Linked DNA regions of Homo sapiens. The protein of the gene in region 3 interacts with the protein of the main gene of each other region in a biochemical or structural test. Each region holds a gene or a part of one and is shown on either strand. Other genes may lie near its edges.

What was found.
Region 1: the proteins of CUL9 (region 3) and UBE2L3 form a complex in vitro, tested with the Homo sapiens proteins (2 studies listed by BioGRID).
Region 2: of the proteins of CUL9 (region 3) and CYCS, one has a biochemical effect on the other in vitro, tested with the Homo sapiens proteins (one study listed by BioGRID).

What each region holds. Positions count from the first base shown.
Region 1 is NC_000022.11:21,622,091-21,624,652, reverse strand, and holds the end of UBE2L3 (ubiquitin-conjugating enzyme E2 L3), read right to left. Parts: 3' UTR 619-2,562; downstream 1-618. UniProt on the Homo sapiens protein: Ubiquitin-conjugating enzyme E2 that specifically acts with HECT-type and RBR family E3 ubiquitin-protein ligases.
Region 2 is NC_000007.14:25,118,147-25,121,842, forward strand, and holds the end of CYCS (cytochrome c), read right to left. Parts: 3' UTR 510-3,696; downstream 1-509. UniProt on the Homo sapiens protein: Electron carrier protein. The oxidized form of the cytochrome c heme group can accept an electron from the heme group of the cytochrome c1 subunit of cytochrome reductase.
Region 3 is NC_000006.12:43,202,585-43,206,235, reverse strand, and holds part of CUL9 (cullin-9), read right to left. Parts: intron 3,521-3,651; coding exon 3,415-3,520; intron 3,128-3,414; coding exon 3,032-3,127; intron 2,820-3,031; coding exon 2,644-2,819; intron 2,383-2,643; coding exon 2,249-2,382; intron 2,141-2,248; coding exon of another isoform or gene 2,088-2,140; exon of another isoform or gene 1,883-2,087; intron 1,877-1,882; coding exon 1,697-1,876; intron 1,489-1,696; coding exon 1,379-1,488; intron 1,304-1,378; coding exon 1,121-1,303; coding exon of another isoform or gene 974-1,120; coding exon 813-973; intron 230-812; coding exon 1-229. UniProt on the Homo sapiens protein: Core component of a Cul9-RING ubiquitin-protein ligase complex composed of CUL9 and RBX1. The CUL9-RBX1 complex mediates ubiquitination and subsequent degradation of BIRC5 and is required to maintain microtubule dynamics and genome integrity.

The DNA.
Region 1 (2,562 bases), on a different chromosome or scaffold from region 3:
CCAAGAAGTTTCCTTCCCCAAGACCTGCAGATCCAGCTGAACAGTGCAGGCCTAGTCTCAGCTGGTGTCAAATTCCAGGCAGGGAAGGCCTAGCCAAAAAAGTCCTGGGTCTGGCTGAGCCCTTGCTGAGTTAGCACCACTGCCGCAGCACCCTGGCAGTGGGCTGTACTGGGGACTCAGAGTGTTTCTGGCTGGCACCATTCATGGACATGGCCCAGCTCCACCCACAGGCACACCCTTATCAATTCTGTGACCTCTTGGGACCGCAGGTTTGCCTCTTCTAAACATGGATTGTTAACACTCCCAGGAGGCTCCAGGATGACCCACGCATGTAAGTGATGCACCCACACTTTAGTCCCTGTCCCCTCAACGAGACGCCCAAGAGCGCCCTCTGCAGGCCCCGACTGTCTGAAGTCTCCGGCTTTCTTGCTGATTATACCTCATCTCCTTCCCTCTAGGGAGGCAGGAACACTTCTATGTACCTCTTTTGGAGAGGCTGGGAATGGGGAGAGAGATCAGAAGCCCCAGGACCTGGGCCCCAGCCAGCCCTCCCATCTCCAAGAGCATAGGCCCCTGGCACTGCCCGCTCCCAGGAAGGAAGAAACCCACACGACTAACCAGTGTCTGAGAGCATTTTTATTACGGGCAGCAGAACGGGATCGCAGCATCTTAGAAAGCCTATTCTCTGCCGTGGTGGGGAGTAGGGAGCAGAGGGAAGGACCCAGCACACTTCAAGAAACCAGGCGGGTGTGAATTCCTGAGTGAGCTTGGGGCAGCAGTGGGTGGCTGCTCCACAGCTCGCCCCTCCTCCAGAGGACCCAGCTTTTTGGTTTTGGAGCAGCCAGGGCTGTTCGCCAGCTTGCTCAGAGCCTACCCTGAAGGCATGGCTGGCAGGAGCAAGCCGCCCAGGCCCAAAGGAGAGACACCCACTGGCTCGAAAGCCAAGCCTCTGCTGACGGGGCCAACCCTGGGGTGCCAGTGCCAGGGCTGAGAGTCCCTGAGGGGCTGCCGGCACACAGGTATCCTCCCGTGATGAGCAGAGTGCAGTGAGGGGTTGACAGGCAGGCAGAGCTACGTTGGCAGAAATACGAAGCAATGGGACAGTTTCCAAGAATGGCAACATTTCTGGATCCAGAGAAGCAACAAGAACAAATGGTGGCTTGTTTGGATAGCTGACAGAATTTGGCATTTTATTACAAACTGGAGTGTGAGTGAAATAAAATCCATCATCACTTTTCTGCTAATGAAGACAGATGTGGAAACGCCAGCCCGGTGCCCTTGCCATCCCGGGCACAAGGGAGTCTCCAGAAACCTGCCCTTGGCGTACCTAGGACAAAAGAAGCCGAGTTCGTGTACACACCGCAGGGGCCATGCGCCTGAACAATGTTAGGCTGCCGAACCTGCCCATCACTCCCCACTTCTGCACAGACCAGACCAAGCTGTCTTACACGCCTGTAGGCCCCGGAAAGATCTCAAGTTATAGAATTAAAATTAAAACAAAAAGCAAAGTTTAAGTCATCTTCTCCACAGGATCTAGTCCCCCCCAAGAGCCAAGAAGGGAAGCCGCCAGTGGCAGAAGCGGGGTTGGTGACACACGGCATTTGGATCGTCGGCTTCCTTGGGGTGTCAGAGCGACATGGATTCTCTACTAGTGCGGGGACAATCCCATTTGCCTTGAAAAGACATTAATATTCAAATCTTTACAAGTTTATCTGACGATAAATTCTAAGGTCAATTTTTATTTCTACAAAAAAAGGCAGTCAAAACAATATAAAACACATTGAAAGGATATTACTGAGTGAGCTTCAAGTGGAGCTTGACTCTGCAAAGGCTGTGAGTCCGAAGGGAGAGGAAGTCCGTCTTGTTCCCGGGCTGGGCTGGCTGCTCTGGAGGAGGGGGTCAGCAGGGGCCCAGGCGACCCCAGACTGGTGCTTTAAATAGCCGAGTCCTGCTAATTCCAATCCTACAAAGGGTCAAAGTGTGCCGAGGGAGGGCTGTGGCAGGGCCACTGCACGGAGGAAGTGGAGAGCAAGCTCCGTGGCACATTCGGATGAAGCTCGGTGACAGATGAGCTAGGAGTTTCAAACGGACATTCTGGCTGTAGCTTTGCCTGCAAGGACCAGCAGATCTTCTACAATGGCTGCAGGGAGAAGTGCCAACCTGGGACCTCAGGAGCCTTTCTGGCGAGATTCATCACACACAGTGTGCACAGCATCCTCCTGACTAGCAGGCCCCCCATTTCGGGGCCACCACAGACCTGTGATTATAGGGCTTCTCTGTGCAGGCCAGGCCAGAGGTCAGTTACACACACTGACATCAGGGCTTGCCCAATTAACTGATGTTACTGTGGTAACATCAGCTGGAGTTTCACACAAGAACTGAGGAGAAGGACTGGAGGAGGGGTGTGGCTGTTTGTTTTTAAATTTTTTAAAAGGATGTTATAAACTGGAGTCAGGAGAATTTAAACCAACTCCCACACTGGGCAACAGTGCCACACATGCTAAGAAAAGCCACCAGGACCGCCAGGGCAGTCTCTTCTCCTTTGTGGAGGCGAGCCCGGGG
Region 2 (3,696 bases), on a different chromosome or scaffold from region 3:
CAAATACAACGTTGTGTTAATCAGATTGATAAAGCAAAGCTCTAAACACAGAACTGAGAAACTCTGTAAAATGCCACACTAAATATTTTAGGCTTTGTCACAACCACTAACCTCTAATGTTGTAGCCCAAAGCAGCCCTAAACAATACACTAACGAATGTGACTGTGATCCAATAAAGTTTTTTTTCTTGAGACGGAGTCTTGCTCTGTTGCCCAAGCTGGAGTGCAGTGGTGTGATCTTGGCTCACTGCAACCTCTGCCTCTCAGGTTGAAGCGATTCTCCTGCCTCAGCCTCCGAGTAGCTGGATTTCAGGTGCCCACCGCCCCCCACCCCTAGGTAATTTTTGTATTTTAGTAGAGACGGGCTTTCACCATGTTGGTCAGGCTGGTCTCAAACTCCTGACCTTGTGATCCATCTGCCCTGTCCTCCCAAAGTGCTGGGATTACAGGCATAAGCCACTGCACCAAGCCCAATAAAGTTCTCTTTACAAAAACAGGCATCTGGTCAGATTGGGTCCACGGGCTGTTTATTGATACACACTAAACACAATTTTCTCCTAATCCTAGACCCAGCATTTTCTGCATTACACTAGCCCAGTGGTCCTTTCTGAAACTACACTGTTCAAGTTACAGACATATTTAAATGTTTAAATTTAAAATGTTAAATTTAACATTTTAACATGTTTAAATGTTCATAGACACATACAACCTGCACTTTTACTCTTTGAGAAATGAATGCAGTAAATTTACTTAGCTTTCTGAGGGAAATGATAGCCTGAAGGCATGACGTTTTCAAATACCCCAAACTCCAACTAAGATAACCTGGAACCTATTAAATGGATATCCAACATTTTGTACTGAACTCTAAGGATATGAACACCAGGACAATGGTTATTCTGAGGCACAGAAAATACAGCCAAAGCAGCAGCTCAGTATGTACCCCGACAGTGCCTAGAAGAGACTTATGTGGGAGACAAAGTTTCTGGTCAGGTGTATTTGTATACTTCATCAGGCATATGCCTTGCATTACATAGCTCTCGCCCCCAACTTGGCAACATCTTATTGGTTTTCAGAATATACTGATGACGGATTGCCAAAAGAGCTCATGAATGAATATTTTCCATTCTAAGGAAACTTTTTTTCTTTTTGAGACGGAGTTTCACTATTGTTGCCCAGGCTGGAGTGCGATGGGGCGGTCTTGGCTCACTGCAACCCCCATCTCCCAGGTTCAAGCGATTCTCCTGCCTCAGCCTCTCAAATAGCTGCAATTACAGGTGCCGCCACCACGCCCAGCTAGTTTTTATATTTTTGGTAGAGATGGGGTTTCACCATGTTGGCCAGGCTGGTCTCAAGCTCCTGACCTCAGGTGATCTGCCTGCCTTGGCCTCCCAAAGTGCTGGGATTGCAGGCATGACCTACTGCACCCAGACCACTTTTTTTTTTTTTAAAAGAGATGGAGTTTCCTTTATCTGTTGCCCAGGCTGGAGTGCAGTAGCACAATCACAGCTACACTGCAGCCTCGAACTTCTGGGCACAAGCAGTCCTCCTGCCTCAGAGTGGCTGGGACTACAGGTGTGCACCACGACGCCCAGTTATCTAGTTTACTCTTACCCAAGTATAAATGATATGAAACAATCTGAGACTAGTCAGTCAACTGTCCTTGGTAAGATCTCCTTCTTGACAGCCATGTGGATTCTATCACACCCTTTATAATTTACAGCAATCTTCAGTGGTTAAAGCAAAACTGTACATCTATAAAGGAATTCAAGAGAAGTGCAGGAAAAGGATGACAAAAGGTAAATCCCTAGCTACCACCAGAATGTTATCTATCTAAAACTGCCAACTTACGAATAGGTAAAACTTATGGTAAAATTATAAAGGTGAGCACAACAGGAACTGGAATCTATTCTGAAGGGCAATATAATGTACTTCCAAGAATTCTAGATTTTTTTTTTTTTTTGGAGACAGTTTCACTCGTCACCCAGGCTTGAGTGCAGTGGCACAATCTTGGCTCACTGCAACCTCCACCTCCCAAGTTCAAGTGATTCTTGTGCCTCAGCCTCCCAAGTAGCTGAGATTACAGGTGCCCACCACCACACCTGGCTAATTTTTATGTTTTTTGTAGAGACAGGGTTTCGCCATGTTGACCAGGCTGGTCTCAAACGCCTGACCTCAAGTGATCTGCCTGCCTTGGCCTCCCAAAGTGCTGGGATTACAGGCATGAGCGACCATGCCCGGCTAATTCTAGATTTAATAGAGTAAAGAGAAAGTACTTTTGTTACAGACCACTGGTTCTAGTCCTAGACCCAGAATGTCAATACAGTAGCCACTAGCCACTTGTGCCTATGTAAATTTAAAATAAAATACTTTCTAGTCACACTAGCTATATTTCAAGGGCTTAACAGCCACATGTGGTTAGTGGCTACCACACTGGACAGCAAAAGTCTACAAAATATCCATCGTCACAGAAAGTTCTATTAGACAGCACTGTTCTAGACAAAATAAGCATGTAGGTGGCATCTGAATACCCCTTAAATACATCTGGCCCTTGTTTTTGATTCTACCAACCTAGCCACTTACAGCGAAGCACTAGAAATGAAAACATGTGGTTTATAGTGCTCTTTTTTTCCCCTATTTCCTTATTTCTGAAGGTATATATCCCTGATAGAAATGTCCTTTTTAAAAAATTACATAATTGGCCAGGCGTGGTGGCTCACGCCTGTAATCCCAGCACTTTGGGAGGCCGAGGCAGGTAGATCACCTGACGTCGGGAGTTCAAGACCAGCCTGTCCAGCATGGAGAAACCCTGTCTCTACTAAAAACACAAAATAAGCTGGGCATGGTGGCGCATGCTTGTAATCCCAGCTACTTGAGAGGCTGAGTCAGGAGAATCGCTTGAACCTGGAAGGCGGAGGTTGCGGTGAGCAGCGATCACGCCATTGCACTCCAGCCTGGGCAACAAGAGTGAAATTATCTCAAAAAAATAAAAATAAAAAAGTTACAGAATCACATTTTAAACCACCAGAAGTGCTTGGGTATAACTGACCTAGAACATGGCAGTTACTCATCTGTGCCAACACAGACCTTAATATAGGAGGCATAGAAATGAGAAAAATTGGCCGGACGTGGTGGCTCACACCTGTAATCCTAGAACTTTGGGAGGCCAAGGTGGGTGGATCACGAGGTCAGGAGTCCAAGACCAGTCTGGCCAACATGGTGAAACACCATCTCCACTAAAAATACAAAAATTAGCCAGGCGTGGTGGCGGGTGCCTGTAATCCCAGCTACTCAGGAGGCTGAGGCAGGAGAATCACTTGCAACTGGAAGGCGGAGGTTGCAGTGAGATTGCACCACTGTACTCAGCCTGGGCGAAAAGGGCGAAACTCCGTCTCAGAAAAAATAAATGAGAAAAATTTTAAACCTGAAAAAAAATTAAACCTAAGTTACTACTGGGCTGATTACTTCTGGGTTAAATAATAAGATTTCTGAATTTGAAAACCAGGCAGGGCCTGGTGGCTCACGCCTGTAATCCCAGCACTTTGGGGAGCCAAGGCAAGTGGACGGATTGCTTGAGCTCAGGAGTTTGAGACCAGCCTGGGACCACATGGCAAAACTCCATCTCTACAAAAAAATTAGCTGGGCATGGTGGCGAACACCTGTAGTCCCAGCTACTTGGGAAGCTGAAGTGAGAGAATCG
Region 3 (3,651 bases):
CTCCTCTTCCTCTAGTCTCTTTTCCTCCTCATCTTCCTGCTCCAAGAACAACTTGTCGAGCCGCTGGAGCTGGAAGAGGTGGAACTGGCGCTGCAGCTCCTCAGAGGTGCTCAGGCTCTGCAGCATCAGCTGTGGGAGGCGGTTGGGAAAACAGAGGCCAATCTGCTCTAGCACAGCCCCCTCCAGCCAGCTCGAACCAAAGCTCAGGAGACGGTCCGCCATATAATGCCTGCAGCACACACAGCCCGGGCCAAGCCTCAGTGTGGGTGCCAGCGTGGCCCAGCCTCCCCCTCGAGAATGTAGGTCCCTCTGTCCCTCTGCCTGAGTCACATACCCTACCTCACCTCTTCTTTCCCACTCCCTTTCCACCAATGCATGACCACCTCCACTTTTTTTTTTTTTTTTTGAGACGGAGTCTTGCTCTTGTCACCCAGGCTGAAGTGCAATGACGTGGTCTTGGCTCACTGCAACCTCTGCCTCCCGGGTTCAAGAGATTCACCTGCCTCACCCTCCCGAATAGCTGGGATTACAGGTGCCTGCCACCACGCCACCACACCTGGCTAATTTTTGTATTTTTAGTAGAGAAAGGGTTTCACCATGTTGGTCAGGCTGGTCTTGAACTCCTGACCTCAGGTGATCTGCCTGCCAGAATGCTGGGATTACATGCGTGAGCCACCGCGCCTGGCCAGCCATCTCCACATCTTAATCTCTCCTCTACACAGCCTCTTTTCTCATCTCCCCTATAAGACTCAAATCTTTCCACTCTCTAGATCTAGGCCTCCCATCCCCTATGCCTCCAGACCTGCACTCACTGATAGAAGTGCTCAAAAGTTGTGGCCAGTTCCAGACCAGAAAGGACCATAATGGGTTCCAGGTGCCGCTGAAGCTGCCCCAGCATTTCCACTCCAGGGGCTCCACCAATCAGGCCACCCTGGATCTGTTGGTCAATGTACCTGGCAAACTGCTCACTCATCTGGGGGCAGGGGAAAGGGCATGAGCAAACCATGAATGAGGGAGTGGAGTAGGAGACTGGGGAGCGAAAGGAGGTGAAAGGGCAGAGCAGAAAGAGATGAACTTGGAACACAAGCTTATAGCCCTGTGGGGAGCTGGTGGGACTCACGTGAGCAGCAGTGAGGAAGGACTGCTGCAGCAAGGCGCCAGAGAAGCCACTGCGCAGAGCCAGCATGAAGGCTGCCCGAGGCCCAAACAGCTCGGAGCCTGCTCTCTGCAAGTGCTCATAGAGTTTACAGTAACGAGGCACAAAGTCTGGGGCCCTCCAAGCTGCAGCCAGGAATCTGCTGACCTGAGGAGAAAGGCAAGAAATGACATAAAAGGAGCAGCCCCTCCCCTCTGCAGACTTCTGCTTGCTTCTGCCCACCTGCTCCTGCACCACGCTCAGCCAGCACTGGGTTATGTTCCTCAGGCTGCTGCTTGGAAGCACTGGCGAAGGCGCCGGGCTCCGGTCCCGACCCTTGCTGTTCTTGCTGACTGTAGAGACAGAGGGAGAAGGAAGGGGTTTCATCTCAGCCTCTGGGTGAGTACACCGGTCTTGGGTAGTGATCTCCTGGAAAGGCCAGTAGGTCTCAGGGGCCTGGAAAGGCCGGTAGCAAAGCAGCAAGAGTAAGACCCAGGGAGGAGGGAGCCAGATACACCACTGTCCGCAGAGTCAGCTCCACTGGCCACAGCTGGGACTTACAGGGCCGAGTGGATGGCTCAGGAGAAGGCCCAGGAGGAGGTTCCACATGCACCAGCAAGTGGCAAAGGCGACGAACTCGAGAAGCAAAGGACGCTGCTCGACTCAAGGGGTTCCGAGAGGTCTCTCTCTGTTCTAAGTACTGATCCAGCAGCCATCCCAGGGCACTCACGCCTTCCGCATCTGAAAGAAGACAGGTCAGGAACAGGTCTCCATGGGAGATGGGAGAACAGACAGCTCAGGGCAGAGGAGGGAGAAAGATCAATTGTACAAAAAGGCTTGAGGGGTAGTGGGGCCCTAGTCCTCCCCTCACCAAGGTTTGTTTCAGCTGGAGTCAGGGGAAATGTTAACAGGGTGGGGATGGGGTAGTGGGAAAGATTCAAATACCAGAGTCTCAGGGAGCAGTGCCTGGGGCAGGAAGGAGAGAGGAACACTGAGGTGACAGGCCTTCAGGGATAAAGACAGGAACCAAAAGAACCAAGAGCATTAACTCAGGTGATCCCTGGGAATAAGGACAAGGAACTGGTTAGTGGGGCCAGGTGTCAGCATGGTTACCGGGAGAGGTGATGTTCTGCACCAGGGGGCTGACCAGGGCCTCCCAGCAGGTCTTGCCCAGTGCCTGGGCGGCCTCATCATCAGGGAGGAAGCGGTCAGCAAAATTCTGCTCGTGGCGCAAAACCCTGTTCAGTCTGGGAACAAACAGTGCATGGCGGAGGATTAATGGCACCGATTTCCCAGAGGCCTCCATTCAAGTGCAGATCAGCTCCCAATCACCCCTGTTCGGTCCCTGACCCAACTTTTCCCAATTAACACAAACTTCTCACCTACGTTCACCTTCCCCCTCATGTCCTGGCTGCAGCTTTCCCTTCCGGACTCCCACAGGAGCATCCCTCCTACTTCTCACAGTGTCCTGTTCCCTTACCCATCTTCCCTCCTCAGGCCCCACCCACCTGGGACAGAGCTGGAGGAGGCGCCGGTGGTCCTCTGCTATGTCCCGGCTCCAGGCTTGTGCCCGAATTGTGTAGAAGAGACATGTTCGGCGACACAGCTGCTCCCGGAACAGTGGCCAGAATGTGGGCTTAGGGCCCAGGACCTCCACACCCCGAACCCGGGTGTCAATGCCGCCCTGGAACATGCACAGACTTATCTGTCACCCAAGCCGCTTGAGCCACTAAGTACTACCAAAGCCAAGCCTCCTGCCCTGAGCTCCCTAGAACTGCTCAGGACATCCCCACATCTCTGGGACTCAACAGGTCCTGGGCCATCTCCCAAGCAGATCAAGGAGAAACTTGTGTGCCACCTCCTCCTCCTCAGCCCTGGCTGACACCCTAACACCACCTGCTGGCAGCGCTTTATGCGGATCTGGATGATGGGCCAGAAGCGGTTCAGGTTCTCCAAGAGGATCACCCGGCTGGCAGAGGGCATCACATTCACCTGGTAGGGCAGGGGAGAAGAGGGAGAGAACTGTCACCTCCAGAAACAAGGTTGGAAAAATTGTTGACAGTAACCAAGTCGGTCATGGTGTGTGCCCTTCACTTCTCCCGCAGAGCCTAGGGATGGACGTGGCTCTGCATCCCTAATCCCACTCTCACTGCTTACAAGGCAACACCTTCCCAAGGGGAAGGGATGTCACCATTCCCCAGGGACTAGGTCCTTCCCACAGGCACTGGGACAAAAAGAAGGATGTGGAGCAAGGTGAAGGTGGGCACAAGGGTCCCCACCGTGTTGAGCTCAGTGCCGATGCAGCTGGTGCTGTCACCCCCAAACACCACCACCCTGGCTGGCATGTAGCTTGAGTCCTCACTGGCCACCAGCAAAGTGAGCTGCCTGGGAAAGAAGAAAGGAAACAGTCAAAGCTGGGCCTCTGGACGTGGTGGCTCACATCTGTAATCCCAACACTTTGGGAGGCTGAGGTGGGAGGATCGCTTGAGGCTAGTTTAAGATCAACCTGGGCAACA